Linked DNA regions of Homo sapiens: region 2 is reported to be linked to region 1. Evidence: microRNA targets listed by miRTarBase, many of them from high-throughput screens and not tested one by one. Region 1 holds a microRNA gene; the other region holds the end of a gene's coding sequence.
The links. Region 1 holds the annotated microRNA hsa-miR-3689d (GGGAGGUGUGAUCUCACACUCG, at 2,616-2,637, shown strand). A microRNA usually pairs through its seed, bases 2 to 8, with sites in the 3' UTR of a target mRNA and lowers its output. Matches are read on the target gene's strand: a 7mer-m8 pairs with bases 2 to 8, a 7mer-A1 pairs with bases 2 to 7 and ends in A, and an 8mer does both.

Region 2: miRTarBase lists UNC119B as a target of hsa-miR-3689d. Seed matches in the 3' UTR shown: 7mer-m8 at 907-913 and 7mer-m8 at 2,288-2,294.

The regions. Positions count from the first base shown.
Region 1 is chr9:134,847,224-134,852,296 of GRCh38, reverse strand. It overlaps MIR3689D1 (microRNA 3689d-1), which reads left to right and starts at 2,615; the gene lies at 2,615-2,688. MIR3689C (microRNA 3689c) reads left to right here and starts at 2,928; the gene lies at 2,928-2,999. It overlaps MIR3689A (microRNA 3689a), which reads left to right and starts at 2,733; the gene lies at 2,733-2,810. MIR3689B (microRNA 3689b) reads left to right here and starts at 2,025; the gene lies at 2,025-2,172. It also overlaps MIR3689D2, MIR3689E, MIR3689F and LOC101448202.
Region 2 is chr12:120,719,572-120,724,631 of GRCh38, forward strand. UNC119B (unc-119 lipid binding chaperone B) reads left to right here. Exons shown (of 5, transcript NM_001080533.3): 5 at 349-4,069. The coding sequence ends at 461. MIR4700 (microRNA 4700) reads left to right here and starts at 3,622; the gene lies at 3,622-3,695.

The sequences.
Region 1 (5,073 bases):
TGCTACCTGTGCACACCTTCAACTCCATGTAAAGCACACACAATGCTACCTGTGCATACCTCCAACTCCATGTAAAGCACACACAATGCTACCTGTGCACACCTCCAACTCCATGTAAAGCACACACAATGCTACCTGTGCACACCTCCAACTCCATGTAAAGCACACACAATGCTGCCTGTGCACACCTCCAACTCCATCTAAAGCACACACGATGCTACCTGTGCACACCTCCATCTCCTTCTAAAGCACACACAATGCTACCTGTGCACACCTCCAACTCCATCTAAAGCACACACAATGCTGCCTGTGCACACCTCCAACTCCATCTAAAGCACACACAATGCTACCTGTGCACACCTCCAACTCCATTTAAAGCACACACAGTGCTTTGTGCGCACACCTCCAACTCCATCTAAAGCACACACCATGCTACCTGTGCACACCTCCAACTCCATCTAAAGCACACACAATGCTTTGTGCACACCTCCAACTCCATTTAAAGCACACACAGTGCTTTGTGCGCACACCTCCAACTCCATCTAAAGCACACACAATGCTACCTGTGCACACCTCCATCTCCATCTAAAGTACACACAATGCTACCTGTGCACACCTCCATCTAAAGCACACATAATGCTACCTGTGCACACCTGTAACTCCATCTAAAGCACACACAATGCTACCTGTGTACACCTCCAGCTCCATCTAAAGCACACACGATGCTACCTGTGCTCACCTCCAACTCCATCTAAAGCACACACAATGCTACCTGTGCACACCTCCAACTCCATCCAAAGCACACACAATGCTACCTGTGCACACCTGTAACTCTAAAGCATGCAGAACGTTGCATGTGCACACCTCTAACTTTATTCAGTGTGGTTTCCTTCCCTCTTCAGGACGTTTAAGTAGTTGACTTCATTCAGCTGCAGGCCCAGCCCGCTGTGGGCTCTGACGGAAGGCCCTTTCCTGCAGAAGTGCGGGTGTGTGGGGACGGGTGGGGCTACTGTCTCCATGCCGCTGAAGTGAAGTGAGCTCCAAGTGTAGCCGAGCAGAGAACCCTATGGGGTGGGGTGTGGGACCTCACACACTGCAGGTTCTACCACCACCTCCCCGCGGGTGGCTTGGCTTAGAAGGCCTAGAGGTGGACCTAGAATGCGTACTTTTAGGGGGCTCCCCGGATGACTTCAACAGGCAGCCAGGTGGGGGCCACTGATGGGCAGACACCAAGAAACACCAGGAACACTTCTGCTAAGCGCTGGCCTTGTCCCATTAAGAACCTGTGGCTCCCCTGGGAGGTGTGATCCCGTGCTCCCTGGGAGGTGTGATCCCGTGCTCCCTGGGAGGTGTATCCTGTGCTCCCTGGGAGGTATGATCCTGTGCTCCCTGGGAGGTGTATCCTGTGCTTCCTGGGAGGTGTGATATCGTGGTTCCTGGGAGGTGTGATCCTGTGCTTCCTGGAAGGTGTGATCCTGTGCTTCCTGGGAGGTGTGATATCGTGCTTCCTGGGACGTGTGATGCTGTGCTTCCTGGGAGGTGTGATCCCACACTCGCTGGGAGGTGTGATCCCGTGCTCCCTGGGAGGTCTGATCCCGTGCTTTCCTGGGAGGTGTGATCCCGTGCTCCCTGGGAGGTCTGATCCCATGCCTCCTGGGAGGTGTGATATCATGGTTCCTGGGAGGTATGATATCGTGGTTCCTGGGAGGTGTGATCCCGTGCTCCCTGGGAGGTCTGATCCCGTGCTTCCTGGGAGGTATGATATCATGGTTCCTGGGAGGTATGATATCGTGGTTCCTGGGAGGTGTGATCCCGTGCTTCCTGGGAGGTGTGATCCTGTGCTTCCTGGGAGGTGTGATCCCATGCTTCCTGGGAGGTGTGATCCTGTGCTTCCTGGGAGGTGTGATACCATGCTTCCTGGGAGGTGTGATCCCACGCTCACTGGGAGGTGTGATCTCACACTCGCTGGGAGGTGTGCTATCGTCTTCCCTGGGAGGTGTGATCCTGTTCTTCCTGAGCGGTGTGATCCTGTGCTCCCTGGGGGGTCTGATCCTGTGCTTCCTGGGAGGTGTGATATCATGGTTCCTGGGAGGTGTGATCCCGTGCTTCCTGGGAGGTGTGATATTGTGGTTCCTGGGAGGTGTGATCCCGTGCTCCCTGGGAGGTGTGATCCCGTGCTCCCTGGGAGGTGTGATCCCGTGCTCCCTGGGAGGTGTGATCCCGTGCTCCCTGGGAGGTGTGATCCCGTGCTCCCTGTGAGGTCTGATCCTGTGCTTCCTGGGAGGTGTGATATCGTGGTTCCTGGGAGGTGTGATATCGTGGTTCCTGGGAGGTGTGATCCCGTGCTTCCTGGGAGGTGTGATCCTGTGCTTCCTGGAAGGTGTGATATCGTGGTTCCTGGGAGGTGTGATATCGTGGTTCCTGGGAGGTGTGATATCGTGGTTCCTGGGAGGTGTGATATCGTGGTTCCTGGGAGGTGTGATCTGGTGCTCCCTGGGAGGTGTGATCCCATGCTTCCTGGGAGGTGTGATCCCGTGCTTCCTGGGAGGTGTGATCCTGTGCTTCCTGGGAGGTGTGATACCATGCTTCCTGGGAGGTGTGATCCCACGCTCACTGGGAGGTGTGATCTCACACTCGCTGGGAGGTGTGCTATCGTCTTCCCCGGGAGGTGTGATCCTGTTCTTCCTGAGAGGTGTGATCCTGTGCTCCCTGGGGGGTCTGATCCTGTGCTCCCTGGGAGGTGTGATATCATGGTTCCTGGGAGGTGTGATCCTGTGCTTCCTGGGAGGTGTGATATCGTGGTTCCTGGGAGGTGTGATCCCGTGCTTCCTGGGAGGTGTGATACTGTGCTTCCTGGGAGGTGTGATCCCGTGCTCCCCAGGAGGTCTGATCCCGTGCTTCCTGGGAGGTGTGATATCGTGGTTCCTGGGAGGTGTGATATCGTGGTTCCTGGGAGGTGTGATATCGTGGTTCCTGGGAGGTGTGATATTGTGGTTCCTGGGAGGTGTGATCCCGTGCTTCCTGGGAGGTGTGATCCTGTGCTTCCTGGGAGGTGTGATCCTGTGCTTCCTGGGAGGTGTGATCCTGTGCTTCCTGGGAGGTGTGATATCGTGGTTCCTGGGAGGTGTGATCTGGTGCTCCCTGGGAGGTGTGATCCGGTGCTCCCTGGGAGGTGTGATCCTGTGCTTCCTGGGAGGTGTGATCCTGTGCTTCCTGGGAGGTGTGATATCGTGGTTCCTGGGAGGTGTGATCCGGTGCTCCCTGGGAGGTGTGATCCAGTGCTCCCTGGGAGGTGTGATCCCGTGCTCCCTGGGAGGTGTGATCCCATGCTCCCTGGGAGGTGTGATCCCGTGCTCCCTGGGAGGTGTGATCCCGTGCTCCCTGGGAGGTGTGATCCCGTGCTTCCTGGGAGGTGTGATCCCGTGCTTCCTGGGAGGTGTGATCCCGTGCTTCCTGGGAGGTGTGATCCCGTGCTTCCTGGGAGGTGTGATCCTGTGCTTCCTGGGAGGTGTGATCACATGCCTGCTGGTGATAGAGAGGCACAGCTCCCCATTGGGGAACAACCAGGACCCAGCCCTGGGAGGTGTGGATTCAGGAGGGCCCCAGAGGCCTGCATGAGCTAGTGAGAGCTAGGAGGTGGTGTCCGCACTGGGAGCGGGACCCACACAGAGGGCACGTGGGGTAAGCATCAATGAAGTTCCGGGTGTCAGCCAATTGCACCCTCCCAATGGCCCTGGAGCAGTTGCAAAAGCTTCCTGCTCTCCCATCGTCCCCTTCTCCAACCCACTCCCGAATGCAGACGCCCCTGGCCCTCCTGGGTGGCCAGAGCCTGAGGACACTCACTAGGACAGCCCTGGGCAGCTCAAAGGAGCACTTTGGCCTGGCACAGGCCAGCTCCAGGGATGCCCCCACCTTCCTCCACATGCATGGATCGGGTTTCGTCACCAAGACATCTGCAGGACAGGAGCGGGGCCTCTGGCCACATGGCCAGAGTGCCTCCTCCATTCATGGGTCCCATGTGCAAATGGGCAGACAGGAGCTCTGAGCAGCAGATTCCCCGAGGCCACATGGGGCACTGGTGGCATCTGAGCCTGGGTCGCTGAGGCAGCTGTCCTCAGCCTGGTCTCACCAGGCCACAGCTGTCAGTGGGTAAACGTGTGTGCGCGTGTGTGTGTGCTCCTGCGGCACTGTGGGGGTCATGCCTGTGGCTGAGCATCTCCTGGAATTCTCTCGTCTCACTTTCGACCTCCTCTTCTCAGCAAATCCCATCAACCCCATCTTTGAAACACCTGGAGCCGGAGTGTGACCCACTCTCATGGGTCTGCACCGCCCCCAGCCTGCGTCTGGGTTACTGCCCCGTGTGGCTTCCCTCCCCATCTCTGCTCAGGCCACACCAGCCCCCTCCCACTTCCCCTTCCTCTCCCCACTCCCTCTGGCCTCTGCCCTGCTGTTCCCTCTCCTGCAAAGCCCTTCCTGCCCGCTGGGCTCCAGGCAGAGAGAACCTTCCCAGTGGCCCTGGTCACCCAGGAGAGCACTTCAATCCCCACCCCACACACACTACACACCCCATACACACAGGCACACACACCACACCCACACACACACTATACAGACACAGCACAAACCACACACACAGGCATGCACACTATACACATGCAGCACACACCACACACACAGGCACATTCCCCACAGGCACGCACACATATACCATACACACGCCAGCACACACACCACACAGGCACATGCACAAACACCACCTCCACACACAGGCATACACCACACACACACACACCACACACACCACACACACAGGCACACACACCACATACACAGGCACAGCTCCCCACAGGCACACACACACACCACACAGGCACACCACACACACAGGTACACACACAACACACATACACTTCACATAAACACAAATAGCACATGCAAAATACACCACATAGCACATGCACACACGTGCCATACACACATGCACATCACCCCCCCCACACACACACAACCACACACATGCACATTGTCTCCTCCCCTTTACATTTCCTCAGGTCTCATTCCTCTGGGCACACC
Region 2 (5,060 bases), not on the chromosome of region 1:
CACTGAGTAAATAGGTTGGTGGGGTCCATGTTGGGAAGAGGGGTGAGCACATTTCCCTGGTATCTTGGCTGAAGAATCCAGGCTGGAGATGACAGAGGAGGCCATGGTGGAGAGTTGATTGCATCCTTATGTTGAAATGGAGATCATGTTCAGCTGGGGGGCCTCTGTGGTCTCCCCAGCTGTCAAGGGCTGCCTCCCTCTGTTCTGACCTCATCGTTATTCTGGCAGAGTATACTCTGAAGCGCTGGCTTATTTTGGAGGGGATGCAAAGTTTTCTCCCACCTACCCTGTGGGGCAGACTCAAACATAATTCTTTGCTTTTTTCTTCCCCCTTTGCCTGACTTGCAGTTCGTCTAATGATTGAAAATCCTTACGAGACCCGCTCTGACAGCTTCTACTTTGTTGACAACAAGCTGATAATGCACAACAAGGCTGATTATGCCTATAATGGAGGCCAGTAAGTGCTGCAAGAGTAGATAGGGGAGGTGCTTTGCCGCGGCCACAAGATCCTGGCACACGGAGATGATCGAAGCTGCAGTTTGTCAACACACATCTGGAACCTGGCCCCAGGAAGCCAAGGCTGGGGTGGCAGTTTCCTGCGCGCCAAAGGAGCTGCCAAACAGTGCTGTGTTTTCTTCCCCAGTATTTTTTCTTCCCTTTTTTTCCTGCCCCGTAGGTTGCAGAGGTACTATAGTAAAGTAAAAGGTTAGGATAAGGGTCCTGGAATCCAGATAAAAAAGTTTATTTTCCGTAGTTCTGGCTGCCTGTTGGTTGTCTTGACGACCAGGCATAGCTGTGCCTGGTGAGAAGGCTCTGGCCAGGCCCACCAGCAGGTCAGCAGCTCTTAAGGTTCCTGGGTGCTGTGGGAAGCTGAAAGGTAGGCCTCTTCCAGGTAGCTCCTCCTCTCACCTCCGGCATTGCCATCAGCGCAGTCTGCCCTCGGTCTGTGTGAAGTCTTAAACCAACTGGAAGACACTTGAAAGGGTGGGGAGGGAGGGAGGTGCCAAGAGTGGAGGCACCAAGGAATGGGTGATGCTGCCAAGCTGAAGGGTCTGCTTTGTGGAGAGGCTGCTGCTCTGTCTGACTTCCAGGGTCTCAGCCAGCCCTCCTGGGAATAGACCAAGTTTTCAGCCTGGCAGTGCCTTCTGTTCCCATTTTGGAGGACAGACAAGCTTGCTCCACATCTCCTGGCTCCTCCCTTCTGAGTCTCATGAAATAGAATGAGTCAGCTCTGCTCATGGAACAGTAGTATCTCTTGAGGCCAGAGCAGGTCTTGTATTTTGTTTTTTTATTTCCAGACTTCTTTCGGGGAGGTTTTATAAAATGACAGTGGTGTTCCCAGCATATGTGATATGTGGTTAGACTTCTGATAGTATCAGCTTCCAGGGGCTAATCTGGCTTATGTTGGGAGGATATGCTTACGAATCAGCAGCAGCTTTCTAAAGGAGAGATTTGACTTTTCTCTGCACTGCACAGCCTGGAGGATTGGCTTTTGATGGGGATTTGCCTCCGAAGCTCTTTGTACATTTCTTGTTTAGGAGGGTTTTCCTATCTACCTTTCTACTGAAGTAGTTTCTGGAACTTTCCTGGTGGATCAGAGTTACGTAATGCAGTCTGAGCCTTCAGACTGCTAGTTAGAATTGTTTTAGGTGTTCAGAAAGGGCAAAATAGGCTGATGTGGCCTGTCAGAGTGATGTGTTCTCAAAAAAGTTCACTTGCACATCTGTGGGCTGCTTTTGTCCTCAGACCCTTAGTGGACAGACTCCACAAACCCTCTGATGAGACGATTGATGTGGCCAGGGTCCAGTTAGCATCAGTAGAAGGATGTCACTAGGAAAGGCCCAGGTATCTGGTAAGTGACTGTGAGGTGTCACAGTACCTGTGACAGGAGAGTGTCCTGATGTGCTTGGGAGAAAGGCCGTATGGGGGCCAGGGATGGAAGAGACAGTGTGTGGCCACAGAAATTCCTGTCCATCCACCACCAGTGCTGCTCCCTGTGTGGGCTTTAGGGCGAGTGGCCCCGAACCTTGGCCCAGTGCTTTGTCCCAGGCCAGAGTCTTGGCAATGCCACATGCTGGCAGCTTTCTCACTGAGAAGGTCCTAGCTTACCCCTGTGTGCTGGCCTTGGATTCAGCCCCGAGAGAGGGGAGAGACCATTCCTCCTGTGGAGTGGGTTCCTTATCACCAGACCGGCCACTCTCAGAACTGGCGTCCACTGTAAATCCAGGTGCCTTACGTGTGGCTCTGTCCCTTATGCTGCAGGGGAAAGCTGCATTGCCATTGTTCCCACCTCCTCACTGGCAGAAAGATGCCAGGGCTGTTAGCACTGTCTCCTCACCTTCTGTTTCTCATTGTGGCTCCTCAAATGGGATTTGCATGTTCCTGTCAAGCGTAACAACAATCCCTTCTCTCTTTGACAGAGGCCCAGGTGGGACAGTTTCTACTATTTGATATTTGAGTATTATCTGGGATGTGGTTCTGGAGCTGCCCAGAGCTGTGCTTAGTAGAGTGTGTCTTGGAAACATGCCCCTGGGCACACTGTATCTGCTACATTAGTGGGCTATCTCTTATCTGCAGTGTTCGCTTTTGCTAGAAAGAGGATGTGGAGGAAGGAGGAGGTGGGCAATCTGGCTTGAGTTGTGCTGTATCCTCTTCCTTGTTAGCTTGCCTTAGTCTCACTGGAGACCATTTGCGGATAGTGCTTGGTCCATGCCCAGCAGGACAGGGCTTTGCTGCTTCTGAAAGTCTGGTGTTCTGTATCTGGGGCTGTGGGTTCCTGTGTCTAGCTGCTCAGGAAATCTTGAGAAGCATTCCACTCTGGGGTGTAAACCAGTATGAGTTTGAAATTCAAGCGTTTGTACCTGAGTTGGGGAGAGAATTGCAAGGCATACTTTCTCTGAAAGTAACAGAACCATTCAGGCTGCCATGTTATTAAGGAATCTGAACTGTTGATAGCAGTTACCTTGTGGGTGATACAATGGGAGGCGGCAAAAAAACTACCTGCATAGGAGACCCTGCCCTTTGTCAAGAGCTGGGAGCACATTTCATCAGAGTAGCAGGCCCACCTGGTGCCAGAGGGCCTGCCCCTCCTGCTTCTGTTCCTTTGCCTTGCAGTCTCCTGGAGAGAGCCTCTCTTTTCCTGTACAGCCTTTGGGCCAAAATGCCCTTCTAGCTTCTCCAAAGAAGATCCGAGTTTATTTCATTCTATGTTTTAAGAGGTAAAAGGACATAACAAGTGAAAGAAGTTTTGGGCTAAAGTAGGCTATGTCTCCTTATGTATTACTCAATACTGTTTTGCAGAGAAAACATTTTTCAAGCATGTGCTTCCTGAAGACACCTCAGTCTTTGGGCCATTTGATTTCCAATACATAGGGTGGAAGAATGTGATTTTGGGGCTGACCATAAACTGGAAATTTGTGAAATGGCAGTGATTGGGCAATCTTCAGTTTATTTTTTCAGTTGAAGTGGAACTCATTTCTGGAATGGATTTAATAGGCTGTGTCTAATGTACAAACTGGGTGAGTCCTGCCTTAGTGTGTCCTGCCCCACCGGTACGCTTCCAGGATACTCTTTTCCCCTCTGTAAAGTCACTTTCTTCTGATGGCCAGTGTCACTATGATGTCAGTGAGGTCTGGGGATGAGGACAGTGTGTCCTGAAATTCACAGGACTGACTCCTCACCCCAGTGCACGAGGATTCCTGTGGCATCAGGTGCTGCTGTACCTGGTGTAGGAGCCTAATCATTGAACCATTGTGTTACTCACATTCCATGTCACAGAACATATCAGCCTCAAGAAGGATTTGGTGGAGGTGGATTTACCACTGGTTTTACAAAGGACCGTGTAAAGTCATTGAAGTTGTGAAAGTCTATTTTTTTTCCTGTAAATCTATTTTTTACAGAATATAAGAAACATCAATGACCTGATCTGTCCTTCCTCCTCCTTCCCGCTTCCCCCAAAATCACATTCCAGTTTTTATTGTCTTTGTGTCCAAAGTAAACTAGGTGACTTATTTGTATAAAATGTTATTTTGCCACATGAGACAGTAATAAAAGAAAGATTTTCACAGTACGTCTCCCTCGTCCTGTCTCCTGATTGTTGGGCCCGTTGTGTTGCTGAGGGGAGCAGGGGCGAATGGGGGCTCCAGGTTTCTCTTACTTTGGCTATTATGTGGCCCTTCTGTAAGTAGTTGAACTAGAGTATAGCTGGCTTCTAGGGTGATTGAGGAATTGTACTGGACTTTAGGCTTAATATTTTTGCTTTATATTTTCCCAGGGTGAGTGGCTTTGTAAATTGAAAGTTTACATGCATGTTTTAAAGGTAGGGTTTTTTTTTTTGAGATGGAGTTTCGCTCTTTTTTCCCAGGCTGGGATGTGATGGCATGATGGTGGCTCACTGCACCCTTCGCCTCCCGGGTTCAAGTGATTGTCCTGCCTCAGCCTCCCAAGTAGCTGGGATTACAAGTGCATGCCACCACGCCCGGCTAATTCTGTATTTTTGGTAGAGACAGGGTTTCCCCATGTTGGCCAGGCTGGTCTTGAACTCCTGACCTCAGGTGATCAACCCGCCTTGGCCTCCCAAAGTTCTGGGATTACAGGTGTGAGCCACTGTGGCTGGCCATAAAGGTAGGCTTATTAAGAAATACTTTAACTACAGTAAAATTTACCTCAATTAAGAGTATTGATGCATTTTGACAAATGAATACTTTTATTACCCATCACAATCATGATATAGGACATTTCCATCGTACCCACTCAGAAAGTTCCTGAGTTCCTTGTGTTTGCAGCCAGGTGACTTCCCCCACTTCGCCTCTTGCAACCACTATCTGATTCTGTCTCTATTGGAAAACTTGGATACTTTTAAAATGAAATTTGAACGTTCATATTTACAGTCACAAATTCTCAAGAGTCTGGTTTAGATGCTCTGTGGCACCTGAAGCAATTATTGGCCTTTGCTCACAAACACAACTCACTTATTTCTCCCTTTTCTCCTGCTTCTTCATCGTTTCTTCCACCCAGGGCTGGTTCCCAGGTGGGATGACGGAAAGGTGAGGAAGCCCTTA